Linked DNA regions of Homo sapiens: region 2 is linked to region 1. The links come from fine-mapping of genetic effects on gene expression. Tissue or cell type: whole blood. Region 1 holds a variant in brackets; the other region holds the start of a gene. All regions are shown on one strand. Distances are from middle to middle.

Region 1 (8,101 bases):
TGGGGTGCTCTGTTGACAGGCTTCCCAGATCCCTGAGTCTCTCTTTCCTTCCTCCTCGATCTTTAGTTGTCCACGGTCAATTCAGTGCTTCCATTGGGGGACAGTCCCCTCCGGGATGACCTGATTCACCTCCAGCCCAGGGAATGGAATCTAGAGGAATACGTGGGGTGGGTCTGGACAAGGAGCGGCAGGAATCACCACCCATCTCCAGCTGTGGAGCCCTGTGGAGGGGAAGGGGAAGCTTGGGGTTCAGAGGGGACTCTTCCAGGAGAGGGGTGCCCAGCGGAGGTAAAGATGATAGAGGGTTGTGGGGGGTCTCTAGTTGAATGTTTTGGCCCATGACTTTGGAACATGGCTGGCAGCTTCCAGCAGAAGTCACGCTCCCCATCCCCCAGGGGACATAGGACCTTTTTCCTGCTTCCTGGTCACTTTCAAAGAACTATTTGCGCAATCTGTGGGTCTGTGGATTCACGGGGCTTTCTGTGTGGGTGCTGCAGTTGCTTTTGTCTGCAGCAGCAGGACACATCTTTCCTCTTACTCAGCCCTTTATGGCCCATGGGGAACTCCGTGGCTCAGGGAGAGCTGAACTCCAGGGGTGTGACCTGGGACGGGTGGGCCTGAGGTGCCCAGCTCAGGGCAGCCAGGTGGCTCATGGGCTGTAGTGAGCCAGCTCCCTGGGGGAAAAGGCTGTGGGCCGTTAGGACCATCCTCCAGGACAGGTGACCTCTATGAGGTCACCTACGGCTGTGGCCGTGCAGGCCTCCTTCCAGCCCAGAGTGGCCCAGTAGAGCAAGGCAGACAGTGACCTCCACCCCCGCAGCCCTCTTAAAAGGCCAGTACTCTTGGGGGTGGGGGGAGGGTTTAGAAAGCATTTGCCCATCTGCCTTTCTTTCCCCCAGCCCCCACCCGCTTTGAATGTAGAGACCCGTGGGCACTTTTCCTTTTGTGGTGGGGGGTGCGGAGGAGGTACCCCCACCCCTGGCACAGCCGCCTGGAATGCAGGACTGTCACTGCTGTTCGGGTGATGACCTCGTTGCCAAGCTCCTCCTGTCCCCTTGTTCTGGGGGCAGGCGCTGTGCTTCTGTGAGGTGGTTTAGCTTTTGCTTTCGAAGTGGCCAGCTGCGGCCACCAGGTCTCAGCACAAGAGCGCTTCCTTTGCACAGAATGAGCTTCGAGCTTTGTTCAGACTAAATGAATGTATCTGGGAGGGGTCGGGGGCACGAGTTGATTCCAAGCACATGCCTTTGCTGAGTGTGTGTGTGCTGGGAGAGTCAGAGTGGATGTAGAGCGCGGTTTTATTTTTGTACTGACATTGGTAAGAGACTGTATAGCATCTATTTATTTAGATGATTTATCTGGTAAATGAGGCAAAAAAATTATTAAAAATACATTAAAGATGATTTAAAAAAAAGAAAATTCCTGGGCATTTGATTATTCCTTCTGGTGGTTGTCAAGTGCATCCGTCCACCAACAGACTTTGTGCGAGCAACAAGGCTGTTTATTTCACTTGGGTGCAAGTGGGCTGAGTCCAAAAAGAGTCAGCCAAGGGAGATAGGGGTGGGGCAGTTTTATAGGACTGGGGTAAGCAGTGGAAAGTTACAGTGAAAGGTGGTTAGCTATTGTCAGCAGGGGAGGGGGTCACAAGGTGCCTGTTGGGGAGATCATAATACTCATTGTCCGGAAGAAGGTCACCAGGTCGATCAGTTGGGGCAGGGCAGGAACAAGCCATAATGGACCTGCAGGCCATCTGGATGTATATGTGCAGGTCACAGGGGTTACAATGGCTGAGCTGCAGCTCAGAGGCCAGACAGTGGTGTCCCCACTGTGCTGAAGAAAGAGCTTCAGCCCCTGGCAATGCCTGGGGTTTAGGTCCCAGGTCTGCTGGTCACCGGCCATAATCTCGGACAAGTCTTTCCCTTCGCTGAGACCCCAGATGGACAGAGAATTCACTGAGGTGACGGGAACAGGAAACTGCGGGTGTCTCTGGGTGAGGCCATCACCATGGTCCGTAGTGTGTCATCAGAGGCCTGGAAGTGCTTCTGGCACCTTTTATCTGCTTCTCCCCAAGAGTCCTTTATTCCAGAACCTTGGAGGGGTGAGCATCGCAGGTCTCTGCAACGGCAGATTCCGGATCGCAGGACTGTCATGGGGCTAACGCTCACCTACTGTGTGTTCAGCCAAGCTTAGCACACACATCTGAACGTTGAGACAGGTGGTCAGAGCCAAGGGCAAGTCCTGGGAGCACGTCTGCATTTCAGTGCATCATGGGCTGCAGGACAGAGGCTAGGCTGGAGCAGGCAGGGCTGATGGTGGGGAGAAGAGTTAAACAGTCTGTTGTAGCCATGCAGGTGGAAGGGGATGGTGGCCGCAACTGTGGACATGTCAGTGAAAGAGAAACAGATAGACTGGGGATAGGTTTAGGTGGTGGAAGCGTCAAGATGTGGCCACTGAATTGATGAAAGTGAGGGATCAAGAATATGCCTGGGACCTGGCACAATGGCTCATGCCTATAATCCCAGCACTTGGGGAGGCTGAGGTGAGCGGATCACCTGAGGTCAGGAGTTTGAGACCAGCCTGACCTATATGGTGAAACCCTGTCTCTACTAAAAATGCAAAAATTAGCCGGGCACCTATAATCACAGCTACTCTGGAGGCTGAGGCAGGAGAATCTCTTGAACCCAAGAGGTGGAGGTTGCAGTGAGCCAAGATCGCCACTGCACTCCAGCCTGGAGACTCCATCTCGAAAAAAAAAAAAAGGGGGGGAGGGGGATATTGGACACAAACACATGCTGTGAGATGACTGTGTGAAGACAGAGATGCCATCCATAAGCCAGGAAGAGAGGCCTACATCAGAGCCTTCTCTCCAAGCTCAGAAGGAACCAACCCTGCTGACCTTTGATCCTGGACTTCAGCCTCCACAACTGTGAAAGGATACATTTCTGTTGTTTAAGCTTCCTGGTCTGTGGGAGCTTATTATGGCAGCCGTAGCAAGCTGATGCAGCGTCCATGAGAACAGAGTCTAAGGCAGGGACTTGGGTGCAGGTAGTTTATTTGGGAGGGGGTTCTAGGAAGCAAGAGTGGAGACAGGGCCAGGGGAGGAGGGAAAGCCAGGGTAAGGGCACATTATTGAGGTGGGTGCTGTGGGAACAGGAGTTTGATTCCACCTGGACTTTCGGGGAAGGGTTCGAAACGCCTCCCGAAATTGTCCGTCCAACTGGGGATAGGAATCTATAGCCACTCTCCCATCCTTCCCATCCCATTACTGAAGCTGCTCTGGCGTGTTGACTTCGTGCACTTCTCAGCTGGGTCCATGCAGAGGCCAAGGCACCCCCACCTGGCATCCAAATTACCCACTAGGCAGAAAGTGAAGACTGGACCCTGGCCATGGCTAAAGGCAGAGATGAGGATGGCAGGGTGAGAGCTGAGCAAGTGGAAACACCTGGCAGAGGAAGGCGTGGCCGGGCTGGTTTCACTGAGTTCAGAGTGTGTGTGGGTTGGCAGTACAGGCAGCTCTAACACAGTGTCATACACCAGAACACAGATATTCATTTCTCACAGTTCTGGGGGCCGGGAAGTCCAAGACCAAGATGCCGGCAGATACAGTATCTGGCGAGGGTCACCTTCTCACTGTGTCTTTACCTGGCAGAGAGAGGATGCTTTGATGTCTCTTTCTTTTCTTCTAAGAATGCTAATACCATCATGGGGGCCCCACCCTCATGGCCTCAAGTAAATCTAAAGACCTCTCAAAGGCCCCACCTCCAAATAACGTCACACTGGGGCCTAAGGCTTCAACATAAGAATTTGCGGTGGGTGATGAGAGGGTGGACACACACACAGACATTCAGTCCATGATACAGGTGTTGAGGTAGAGTGGTCCCACAAGCAGTTCACAAACAGTTCTGAAGCTTAGGGGAGAAAAACACATTTGGTAGAATCGTGCAGTGGCACGATTTCAGCTCACTGCAACTCCACCTCCCGGGTTCATGCCATTCTCCTGCCTCAGCCTCCTGAGTAGCTGGGACTACAGGTGCCTGCCACCACACCCAGCTAATTTTTTGTAT[C/T]TTTTTTAGTAGGGACGGGATTTCACCATGTTAGCCAGGATGGCCTCAATCTCCTGACCTCGTGATCCACCCGCCTGGGACTCCCAAAGTGCTGGGATTACAGGCACAAGCCACTGTGCCCAGCCTTTTTTTTTTTTTTTTTTTGAGACGGAATCTCCCTCTGTCATCCAGGCTGAAGTGCAATGGCGTGATCTCGGCTCACTACAACCTCTGCCTTCCAGGTTCAAGCGATTCTCCCGCCTCAGCCTCCTGAGTAGCTGGAATTACAGGCACGCACCACCATGCCTGTATTTTTAGTAGAGACGGGGTTTTACCATGTTGGTCAGGCTAGTCTCTAACTTCAGACGTCGTGATCCACCCGCCTCAGCCTCCCAAAGTGCTGGGAATACAGGTGTGACCACTGCGCCCACCCTGTTTTTTTTGAGACAGAGTCTTGCTCTGTTGCCCAGGCTGGAGTGCAGTGGCACGATCTTGGCTCACTGCAACCTCTGCCTCCCAGGTTCAAGCAATTCTCTGCCTGAGCCTCCCTAGTAGCTGGGATTACAGGCGCATGCCACCACGCCCGGCTAATTTTTGTATTTTTAGTAGAGAGATGGTTTCACCATCTTGGCCAGACTGGTCTTGAACTCCTGACCTCATGATCCACCCACCTTGGCCTCCCAAAGTTCTGGGATTACAGGCGTGAGCCACTGTGCCTGGCCTAAACTTTTTATTATGAAAAAATTCAAACATGCAGAAGTAGAGGCAGCAATATAAAGACCCTCATGCGCCACTCACCCAGACTCCACCATCCTCAGTGCTACCCCACACTTGCTGGGATGCAGATGCTGGGGCCTGGGCACATAGTGGTAGATAAAGCCACGGGTGGGGGAAGGGTCAGAGGAGGAAGAAGGCGATGTGCCTGTGTTTGGTGGTGGGTAGATTTATGCATGCCTGCCCCCAAGACCAAGGGAGGCAAGAGACCAAAGACAGAGGCTGACAAATCCAGTTTCTGAGAAAGAAACATTTAATGGGGACTTAAGAACAGAGGCCGTGTCTCCGGCAGCTGAGAGATGGCAGATCCCCGTAGCCGCCCTCCAGAAAGTGTTCTTTATATAGCAAGCTTTTAGGGTGAAACGTGTAGCTGGTCATGTCTTCAGACTTTGTTGTCAAGACTCATGAGCACTGGGGAGGCTGGATAAGCATCTTTACGAGGGGTCATCTGTGCGATGGGCATTGTTTAAAGACCTTGCTGCAGGACACATTGTTATGCAAGGGTCAGACACCAGTCCTCCTGGCGGTTACGCTTCAAGGTGGCGTCACTCTTGCTGTTTTCCTATAGCACGCTCGTGTATGTGTGTGCGCACGCATGCACGCACATGTGTATGCTCATAGGTGGTAACATGAGGGCTGATTCTGCCTCGTCCTAGTTTCCTGCACTGGGGGTAGAGTCTGGCTCTAGTCGATTGCTGGCAACTCCTTGGTGGCTCCCTTTAGGAAGTGGAGCACTCAGGGCCGGGCGCAGTGGCTCATGCCTGTAATCCCAGCACTTTGGGAGGCCGAGGCGGGAGGATCACCTGTGGTCCGGAGTTTGAGACCAGCCTGGCCAACTTGGGGAAACCCCGTCTTTACTAAAAATATAAAAATTAGACAGGCATAGTGGCGTGCACCTGTAATCCCAGCTACTTGGGAGGCTGAGGCAGGAGAATCACTTGAGCCTGTGAGGCGGAGCTTGCAGTGAGCCGAGATTTTGACACTGTACTCCAACCTGGGTAACAGAACGAGACTCTGTCTCAAAAAATAAATAAATAAAATAAAATAAAATAAAAAGTGGGGCACTCAGCATGCTTTGTCTTTAGCTTTAAGCCTTAACCCAAGTTCTGAATCCCCAAGAACATGTCATGGCTGGGTGTGGTGGCTCAAGCCTGTAATCCCAGCACTTTGGGAGGCCAAAGCAGGTGGATCACTTAAGGCCTGGAGTTGGAAAGCAGCCTGGGCAACATAGCGAGACCCCGTCTCTATGAAAAATGAGAAAAAATTAGCTGGGTGTGGTGGCACCTCTAGTCCCAGCTACATGGGAGGCTGAAGCAGGAGGATTGCTTGAGTCCAGGAGGTCATGACTGTAGTGAGCTATGATCATGCCATTGCACTCCAGCCCAGGTGACAGAGTGAGATCCTGTCTCAAAGGAAAAAACGAAAAACAAGAAAAGTCTCAGAATTGCCCTGGTACACGTGCTCAGTATAGCTCTTGTGTATGTTGTTACCTGCATGCTGACAACGACTCTCTGAGGTAGGTACTATTGTTGCACCTGTTTCTGTGAGTGGAGACAAGTGGTTAGAGAGGCTGCGGTTAGTTACTCAAGGCTACATGGCTAGGACGTAGCAGAGCAGAGACTTGAACCTGTATCTGGCACCAGACACCTCATGACTAATCCTTCTACAGCAGTTCTCAAACTTTTTGGTTGCTGAATCCATATACATTCTTAAAAACTGTTAAGAACCCCAGAGAGCTTTTGTGTATGTGGGTTATAGCTATCAATATTTATCATATTAGAGGCCAGGTGCAGTGGCTCACGCCTGTAATCCCATCACTTTGGGAGGCCGAGGCAGGTGGATCACCTGAGGTCAAGAGTTTGAGACCAGCCTGACCAACATGGTGAAACCCCATGTCTACTAAAAATACAAAAATTAGCCAGGCGTGGTGGCAGGCGCCTGTAATCCCAGCTACTTGGGAGGCTGAGCCAGGAGATTCACTTGAACCCAGGAGGTGGAGGTTGCAGTGAGCCGAGATCCCACCACTGCACTCCAGCCTGGGCGACAAGATCGAGACTCTCTCCAAAAAAAAAAAAAAAAAAAAAAGTAATGGCTTCATTATTTTTTAATGAATTAGATATTTTTAAATTTCTCATATATATATATATATATATATATATATATATATATATATATATATATATATATGGTTTTTGTTTTGTTTTTTTTTTGGAGACAGCCTTGCTCTGTTGCCCAGGCTGGAGTGCGGTGGCGTGATCTCGGCTGCAAACTCTGCCTCCTGGATTCAAGCCATTCTCCTGCCTCAGCCTCCCGAGTAGCTGGGAATACAGGTGCCCACCACCACACCCAGCTAATTTTTGTGTTTTTAGTAGAGATGGGGTTTCGCCATGTTGGCCAGGCTGGTCTCAAACTCCCGACCTCAGGTGATCCACCTGAGCCTCCCAAAGTGCTGGGATTACAGATGTGAGCCACCGCACTGGGCCTGAAGCCATTACCTATTAACATAAGTAACACATTTTATGAAAAATATATTTTCCAAAACAGAAAGATTCAGTGAGGAGAGTTGGCGTTGCTTTACTCCCCGCCGTGTCCCCCCCACGCCCCGTTGCCTCTTTTTTGTTTGGCTTAATAGTTAGGTGGATTATCATATCTCCTGCGTAAAAACCTGTTGCAGTATTGCATGGCATGCAGCCTCTGGAAAATTCCGCAGTTCGTTGTGAGAACATGAGAGCGGGAAGACAACATCTTAAACATGATGATGAGAACCGTGGACCTTACAGGCCCTGAAAAGGCTGGGGGCACACTTGGAAGCCACCGTCTTCTTCCCTGTAGCTCGCCTGGGCAGGTGGCCACAGCTAGCCATCTGAGGCCGGTCCGTGGTCCATTCCTGGAAGGCGTGGCTTCTGGCCGGTGCCCCGGGAGAGCTCATTGCGTGGAGATCCCCTGTCAGCGCCCCGCTTCACAGTCCCCCACGCTTCACCGTCCACCTCCCAGCTTCACTGCCCTCCCCCGCCCCCCTCCCCGACCCCCTCCGCACCCCCCCATCCCTGGCCGCTTCACTGTTCAGTCCGGATGCCTCCTGGAAAGAAAAGCCATACAGCACGAAGGAAAGCAGGCGCGGGAAAGTTCCTGTGAAGCTGGAGGGGAGGGGGCAAGAGAGAAAAGCTGCAGAAGGAAAGAGGAAGGAATGCAGGCACTAGGGGAGAGGAGGGGACGGCGGTCGCTGGGGTCAGGGGAAGGCGGACGCCTCTTCCACTGTCCTGAGAGGGAGGAGGCACAGAGGAAGC
Region 2 (8,089 bases), 25 kb before region 1:
AATTTTGCCATGTTGCCCAGGCTGGTCTTAAACTTCTGACCTCAGGTGATACGTCTGCCTTGGCCTCCGAAAGTGTTGGGATTACAGGCGTGAGCCACTGTGCCTGGCCTATTTTCTCCTGTACCTTTACTCTTGCCTTCCTTTCATTTTCTTTGGTTTATTCTGCTGCTCTTTTTCTAGCTTCTTGAAACGAGCGCTTGTTCATTACTCTCAGCCTTTTCTCTTTACTAATATAAGCACAAAAGGCAATAAACTTCCCTCTAAGAAGCGCACTAGCCATAGCCCAACATTTTTACTATGTAATATTTCTATTGTCATTCAGTTAAAAATATTTTTTTCATGCTTAAAGGCAAATGTATTCAGTTCCTTTCCATGCAGCACACAATAAGTTTATCTATGTGCTTATTTCTTTTCCAAATCAACAGTTTGAGACAACCTTTCAGGGTCTGCTCATCCTCCATGGCGAGTCATCTTGCAATGTGATCTGGTAAGTGTCTTGCATGGGGGAAAAGGAACCTTCTTGCTGACCTACAGATTGGCCACATACGGGGTGTATGGGAGGAGACCTAACAACTATTGCCTCTTCTGCCACCATCAAGCTCATGGTAGGGCCACATTAACTTTTTTTTTTTTTTTGGAGACGGAGTCTCACTCTGTCACCCAGGCTGGAGTGCAGTGGCGCGATCTCAGCTCACTGCAACCTCCGCCTCCCGGGTTCAAGCAACTCTCCTGCCTCAGTCTCCCAAGTAGCTGGGATTATAGGTGCCTGCCACCACGTCTGGCTAATTTTTTTTTTTTTTGTATTTTAGTAGAGATGGGGTTTCATCATATTGCCTAGGCTGGTCTCAAACTCCTAAGCTCCGGCAATCCACCCGCCTCGGCCTCCCAAATTGCTAGGATTACAGGCATGAGCCACCGCACTTGGCCAAGGGCCACATTAACTTGTACCAAGAGATGCTTATAGAAGCCACTCGGATTTGCTACAGCAGGGAGGAAGGCACAGGAGAAGAGGAGAGACTTGATGTCCTATGATGGAGTGTAGAGACTGCTGGATGGAAAAAAAACAAGAACAATGAAAATAAGGTCATCTTCCTTAGGATGCCATGCCAAACAGAAAGCCTCCGAAAAATCCCCCAGTCACTAGAACATTCTTCACAAACGACACCACCTCCTCAGCTTTGCTCCTGACCTTGGTAGGTATCTGATTGCTCTTAAGGGATCTTCAGCAGCTCTTTGGCTTTCTTTATATCTTTCTCCACTCGTTGCCAGTCAACTTTGATGTACCCAGTATGATTTGCAAGCTGAAGGAGAAAAAAACAAAACACCTCCCACAACTGTTACAGCCAACTTTCCAACCTTCTGGGATATGAAACCCGTGCACCATTCAGTGACACCCCCAATGAACGGCTGGGTTGCCACCCTTCACTTTTCGGGGAAGGTCCAGATTCCTGCCTGAACAGCTTACACCACCATGGCTGTTTCTTAGCAAATTCCACAAGGTCCAGCGACTCAAAATTTCCCTCAAAGTTTGCTTGACTGGACTCGGCCATTTCATCGAGCTTGTCTTGCGAGGACACACGCAGAGGATCCGCGCTGTAGGAGGCGGAGTGGCACACAGAGTCATCACCACTGGTTGGCTTCCAGCACGAGGGACAGATTTCCATTCCCACGGCGACAGCGGAAGAGCAGTTAAAAATATTTTATAATTTCCATTACAATTTCTTTTTTTTGAACCGCTAGTTAACATAAAAACGTACCTCTTCCGTGGCTCATGCCTGTAATTGTAGCATTTTGGGAGGCCAAGATGGTTGAATCACCTGAGGTCAGGAGTTCGAGACCAACCTGGCCAACATGGTGAAACCCCACCTCTACTAAAAAGACAAAAATTAGCTGGGGGTGGTGGCGGGTGCCTATAATCCCAGCTACTTGGGAACCTGGGAGGCAGAGGTTGTAGTGAGCCAAGATCGTGCCACTTCACTTCAGCCTGGGTGAAAGAGCAAAACTCTGTCTCAAAATAAATAAATAAATATAATGAAAAACAAAAACAAAAAAACCCATACTTCTTACTTTCCAAACATATGGGGCTTTTGAAGTGAACTTTTTATTATTCATCTCTAGCTTATATGTGTTGTGGTCAGAGAATGTATTCTGTTATTTCTGACTTTTGAAATTTATTGAAATGAACTGTTTTTGTAAGTATTCCATGTCTTGTAAAGGGGAGTATTTTACCATGGTAGATAACAGTGTGCTATGAAGTCCATTAGTTAAGTTTATTAATTGTGTTCAAATCTCCTATATACTATTGAATATTTTTCTTCTTCTCCTACCACTTATGGAGGGGTGAGTGTTAAGATCTCCCACTATAATTGTGGATTTGTCTATCTCTCCATCTAGCTGTCTTCTTCATGTTTCTTATATTTTAAGATGATTTGCATACAAATGTGAAATTGTTCTATTTTTCTGGTGAATTGGACACTTTTCATTATGAAATGACCTTATTTATCTCTAGTGATGTTTTTCCCTCGATATTAAAATAACTGCACCAGCCTTCTTTTCGTTAGCATTTGCGTGGTATTTTCCCCCCATGTGTTTACTTTTGACCATCACTAGCTTTATGTTTTGGAAGTGTCTCTTGTGGGTTTCTCTTGTAAACTGCATCTAGCTATTTATGCATTCTGATAATCTTTGTATTTTAACTGCAATATTTAGTTGCATTTATTGAATCACAAAATATTCGAATTTATAGCTATCGTCTATTTGTCCCCTCCCTGCCCCGTCTTGTATTTATTTTTCTCTCCATTCTTGCCTGCTTTACAGTTGTTTGGGTTGGTTTAATCATTCTTTTTCCTCCTCCAATAATTTGGATAACTATACACAGTATTTCCAGTCCTACAGTGTTTATCCCAGTAATGACAATCTGGATTCTTAAATTCGTCAAAGTGTATTTGGTATCTATCTTCACCTTCCTCCTGAAGAATATAAGGATCTTAGAACACTTTAACTCCATTCACCCAAGTAAATGCCATCACTGTTGTGTATTTTAAATCTGTTTTTATCCAGAAGTCATTGTTATTGTTTCACACTATCGCTGTTCTTCATTTTTCTTTATTCCCAGTTGCATCAGACCTCCGTCTGGGATCATCTTTTTCCTGCCTGAAGTTCCAGCTTTGGAATCTCCCTCCGGAGGGTCTACCAGTGGCAAACTCTTAAGTTTTTGTATTTGTAAGTGCTATGATTTCACCTACGTTCTGGATACATGTGCCTCATACTGGGTACATAATTCTTGAAATACATTTTCACTGAATATATAATTCTAAGATGATGGTTATTTTCTCTCTGGCTTTGTTGCTCTTGATGAAAAGTCAGGTGTGAATCTATTATTCTCTTTTTCTATGTGCCAGAAAGAGGTGTTGGATTTTATTGTGAGGGAAATAGGGAGGAAAATTTTTAAGCACAGGGTGACCCCGTCAGATCTGCATTTTAGAAGCACACTCTGGCACTGTGTGGCTGAGATCGGAGGGAGGGCAGCTCCGCGAGGTCTCTGCTGTGGTCCAGAGAAAAGACGGGGCGAACCTGGGAGGTGGGTGCGGTGAGGGCAGGCAGACCCGAGTCCCCGAGGGGATGCCGGAGCGACAGAAGTTGGGGTCAGTACAGGAAGGAGCAGGGACGACGCCGGGCTCCCAGTGAGGAATGGAGGCGCGTTAGCGAAAAAGGAAGGGGGGTGGGGAATCAAGAGTTCGTCTCGTGCCACAAATGGTTGAGCCCCCACTAAGCACCTAGCGCCCAGTACACGCGGGTTTGGGGAAGGCTGGGGCAGCGCGGCGGCAAAATCCGTCCCCGGGGGACCTCAGCTCCACCGCGGCCGCTCCTGCCGCGAACGAGGGCCCGGCCCGGGAGCCCTCGAGGCAGCGCCCGCGTCTGACCCGTGCGTCTGGGCACCGACCACCGAGGGTCGGGTGGATGGACAAATGGAAGGGCGGATGGAGGGGTGGGTGGACGGACGTGGAGACACTGGCCAAACTGCGCCGCGGAGAAGGCCGGATTAGGGAGACCTCGGCCCTGCGACGTCCGGACACGGTGGGAAGCCTTTTGGGTCCCGGCTCTCCTGCAACTCGAGGGGCTGCGCCTCGGGCCCAGTCTCCTCCGCTGCGGGAGGTGAGCAAATGGCCTCCCCGCTCTGAGCCTTGACTTTGTCGTCGGCTCCACTGGGCCCTGCCACTTCGGCCCCTGGCAGTCACCGGGAGGCTATGAGGCGCCCGCCTGGGTATTAAGGATCACGTCCCGCCCCGGCGTCACAGCAAGACGGGGCGCGCGAGCCTCCGCCCCGCCCCAGCCGGTGACCGAGCCAAATAAGTCCCACGGCAGCGCTCGCGGCTCGCGGCCCGCGGCCCAATCGCAACCCGCGGGGGCGGGCCCCGGGGGCGGGGTTCCGATGGGGGCGGGGCTCGGGGGCGGAGCTGACCCTCAGGGCGCGAGCCGAGCCCGCGGCCGTTCCGCGCGCTCCCGCCCCGCCCCCTCCTTGCGCGCGCTCGCTCGCTGGCGCCGAGGAAAACGTTGCGCAGGTTCAAAAATGGAACGTCGGCGGCGTGAGGGAGCGCGAGGGGGTGTGCGCGCGTGCGCGTGCGCGTGCGCGCCCGGACGAGGGTGACGGGGACCCCGCCAGCCCCAGCATCGCGCGCCGCAGCCGCGGCCCCGCAGCTCCGCCCCCGGCCCGGCCCGGCCCCGGGCCCGCTCGCCCGCCGCCCCGCATGGAGCTGTCAGCCATCGGCGAGCAGGTGTTCGCCGTGGAGAGCATCCGGAAGAAGCGCGTGCGGAAGGTGAGGCTGCCCGGGGGCGGCTCCCAGGACCCCAGTGGGGTCCCTCCCGTCCCCAGCACCGCTCCCTCCACGCTGGGGCTGAAGGGGAAAGCGGGGCGCGGGGGCCCCGGCAGCCCTGCGCTGCTGGGCCCGTCTCCCCAGCCCGTGCCTCAGTTTCCCTGCCACCGTGTAGGGCGAGTAGAACAAAAGTTGTCGCTCCAGGATGCTAGTGGCGGCCGAGCCTGCCTGAGCTGGAGATTAGGATCGGACGTAGGGATCCTCAGCGCCATCCCACCTCGCTCCCCTTTTATTGTAAATATGGGGAGACTGAGGCCCAAGTTGAAAGGACTTGCCTAGCGCGTTATGGTCAGAGCTGGGTTTTGAACTCGGGACTCTGGACGCTTGGCACCAAATCCTTTCAAGTTGTAAGTGGAGCTTTGGAAAAGTCTCCTCCGGCCTCTGAAGTTTTTCCTGCTGGACTTTGGCCTTTTCCGATCCTGCCCCCTCTACGCCACCCGAGCACATCCCTATTCCCCGCCCCCACCCCCACCTCAACTCCTAGCCCAGGCCAGGGCTCTGAAGCCCGCCCCCTGCGCTGGGGCATCCCCTAGTCTCCTACCCCATCTGCCTTCTTCAAAACATACACCCTGCAATTTAAGGAGGTGTCTGTTCTGCTGGTTTCAGAACCCCACACTTTGGGGCTAGACTTTGTCCGGGCCTGGCGTCTACACCTCCCGTGCACTTGTTTGGCGAGGGGGCTCGCCTAAGGCTGGGGAAATCCTTGGGGAGAAGTTCCTTTCCTGGTACGCACTACTGTCCTTCCTTTGTCTCCTCCTCCCTGCAGCCCTTTGGGAGGCTCCAGGCCGACTGGGAGGGGCCTTAGGGGGTCACCTCCTCCCATTTAACAGAGACAAAAACTGAGGCCCAGGCAGAGGAAGTGACCTGCTCAAGGTCACCGAGCAAGTTAGATAGGGAGGTAGAGCAGGAGCTCAACTGGGCTGATTGGCAGCCCATCTTCTTTCTCCATAGAGAAAACTCAGTCCTGGCATCTCGGGCCAAGGGTGAAGGTCAAGGTGGTCAGGAGCATCTTTTCTTCCTCCAGCTGTGCTTGGGGTTTTACTCTTCTGATTGAGGCAGCTGTTCCTCCTCCTTCTCCTTTTTCCTAGGGTTTTCTCCACTTAAAAGAGAATTGATTTATTCCACAAAGCTCAGTGCTTTTCGTGCTGTGTAGCCTGAAGCAGGCACAGCACTAACTCCCTCTACGATGGAGCCCGCAGGGTAGCACAAGAGGGCGAGATCATCATTCCTTCGGCCAGTCACTCAAAATATTTATTGAGGGTTGGTCAGGTACCAGGCACCAGTCTAAGCCCCAGGGATCCACCCCTTCCCTCAGGGAGCTGGCATTCTGCAGAGGCGGCACACAGTGAATGAGGAGATACAGACAGATGCCTTCAGATGGAGCTGTGTGCTCTGCAGAAATAGAACTGCAAGGTGCCAGTGGAGACAGCATGGGAGAGGGTCACCAGGGAAAGCCTCTGTGAGGAGGTATCATATTTTGGTCTTAAAGTTCTGGCGTGCAGGGGCTTCACTCACAATGGGGTTGGACTGTAAACTTTTTTTTTTCTTGGCACCAAGATCTCACTCTGTCACCCAGGCTGCAGTGCAGGGGCATGAACATGGCTCACTGCAGCCTCAACCTCCCCGGCTCAAACGATCCTCCTGCCTCAGCCTCCTGTGTAGCTGGGACCACAGACAAGTGCCACCATGCCCAACTAATTTCCTTTTTTCAGAGACAGGGGTCTCACCGTGTTGCCCAGGCTTGTCTCAAACTCCTTCCTGGGCTCAAGCGATCTTCCAGCCTCAGCCTTCCAAAGTGTTGGGATGACAGGCTTGAGCCACCGTAACTGTAAACTTTTAAAGCCTGTGAGGAAGGGAGGGGCCTGGCTCTACTTTCTAACAACCACAGGGCTGACCACCCCTTCTGAAGGTGGAGACTTTGCCAGTCTTCCATGGGGTCCTGCCAGGGTCTTTTGAGTTGAGAGTCCTCAAGTCACTGGCCCATTACCTCTGAGCCAGAGGCAGCCACTCACAGACTGAAAGGGGACTCAGCAGATGGGGGAGGAGCGTGGGGACTACCCCAGAGAGGAATGTTTTCGTATTTGGAGACTCTTCCAATCTAAAAAAGAAAGTAAGCGTTCCCACCTGTGCACTGGGGCTCTAGACACTGTGGGTCTTTGGCCACGCATGCACACCTCCATGCAGTCTCAGCTCCCAGTGTGTGACATGAGCCCTGGGCTTGGGCCTCAGGAGCCTCAGAGGTGGCTGGAGCCAGACGCACTCCTGTGCTGTCCTAGGGAGGGCAGTATGGGGCGGGCATGCAGCAGTCGCGGTTATATGGGTTGGCGAGGATCTGGTGGACAGTCCCCGGATTGTGTTTGTGTGTTGGGGAGACACCTGTCTGCAGATGGGATTTGGAGCTGGGCTCCTTTGGGCCTTAACTGTCCTTCCGAGTGGCTGTAGGGGCAACCACGAGACTCACTGTGTCTGCTTCTCTCTCTTCTCAGGGTAAAGTCGAGTATCTGGTGAAGTGGAAAGGATGGCCCCCAAAGTAAGCTCCTTCATGTGTGTGTGTCTGTCTGTCTGCCTACCGACCCATGCATTCCTCCACCTGCCTTTTGCCCCCTCCCCTGCCTAGCTTTTAGCTCCAGCTACTCTTGTAACTGGACAGCTGACCTTGATTTAATCATCATCTTCTCTGGGCCTCAGTTTCCCCCTGGACCACAGGAGGGTCAAGGTGGGTCTCCAGCTTCTCTTCTCACCCTGCCCTCCTGAGTGTTGAGCTCCTCTGCTAGTTGGAGCTTCTGCTCTCCCTCCTCCCCTCCCTGTGGCTTTTCTTGGCAACTGGGAGGTGAAGGCCCAGCATCCGGGCTACTGGAGATGGCTGCTGGACAGGAGGAGGGGACCCCAGCTGCTTTAAGCACAGTGCTGCATGAGTCCTCAGTGCTGTGTGGCCAGGGGCAGAGCCTGAATCCCCCTCACCTCTAGACGGCACTTTCCAGTCTATAGAGCAGGTTCCCATACAGCTTTGTAAGGTAGGTGTGATCAGGCGCTCTCAAGGTGAGGAAACAGGCTCAGAGAGGGTAAGCAGCTTGCCTTAGGTCACACAGCAAGTGGAGGCAGAGTTGGGACTTGAACTAGGCCTTCTCCTTTTCAGGTGTCTCCTCTGTGCCTTCCCAGCCTCCCATCTCGGAGTTGGGAGGCAGGGAGCTGTATCTGAGACCTCCCAGCTTCTC

The links. PIP is the estimated chance that this variant, and not a neighbour inherited with it, causes the effect.
Region 2: it holds the start of CBX7, and the variant in region 1 is fine-mapped to the expression of CBX7 in whole blood (INTERVAL, PIP above 0.99).

The regions. Positions count from the first base shown.
Region 1 is chr22:39,124,087-39,132,187 of GRCh38, reverse strand. CBX7 (chromobox 7) reads left to right here. Exons shown (of 6, transcript NM_175709.5): 6 at 1-1,416. Among named protein-coding and RNA genes, the nearest start is that of CBX7, 25 kb to the left of the region's middle. RefSeq lists an enhancer at 201-762 and a silencer at 3,490-3,539. The variant C/T (reference allele first, on the strand shown) is at 4,062.
Region 2 is chr22:39,149,104-39,157,192 of GRCh38, reverse strand. CBX7 (chromobox 7) reads left to right here and starts at 4,513. Exons shown (of 6, transcript NM_175709.5): 1 at 4,513-4,817; 2 at 7,361-7,404. The coding sequence starts at 4,749. It also overlaps the pseudogene FUNDC2P4. RefSeq lists silencers at 4,207-4,776, 4,847-4,896 and enhancers at 4,354-4,935, 8,015-8,089, 7,971-8,089.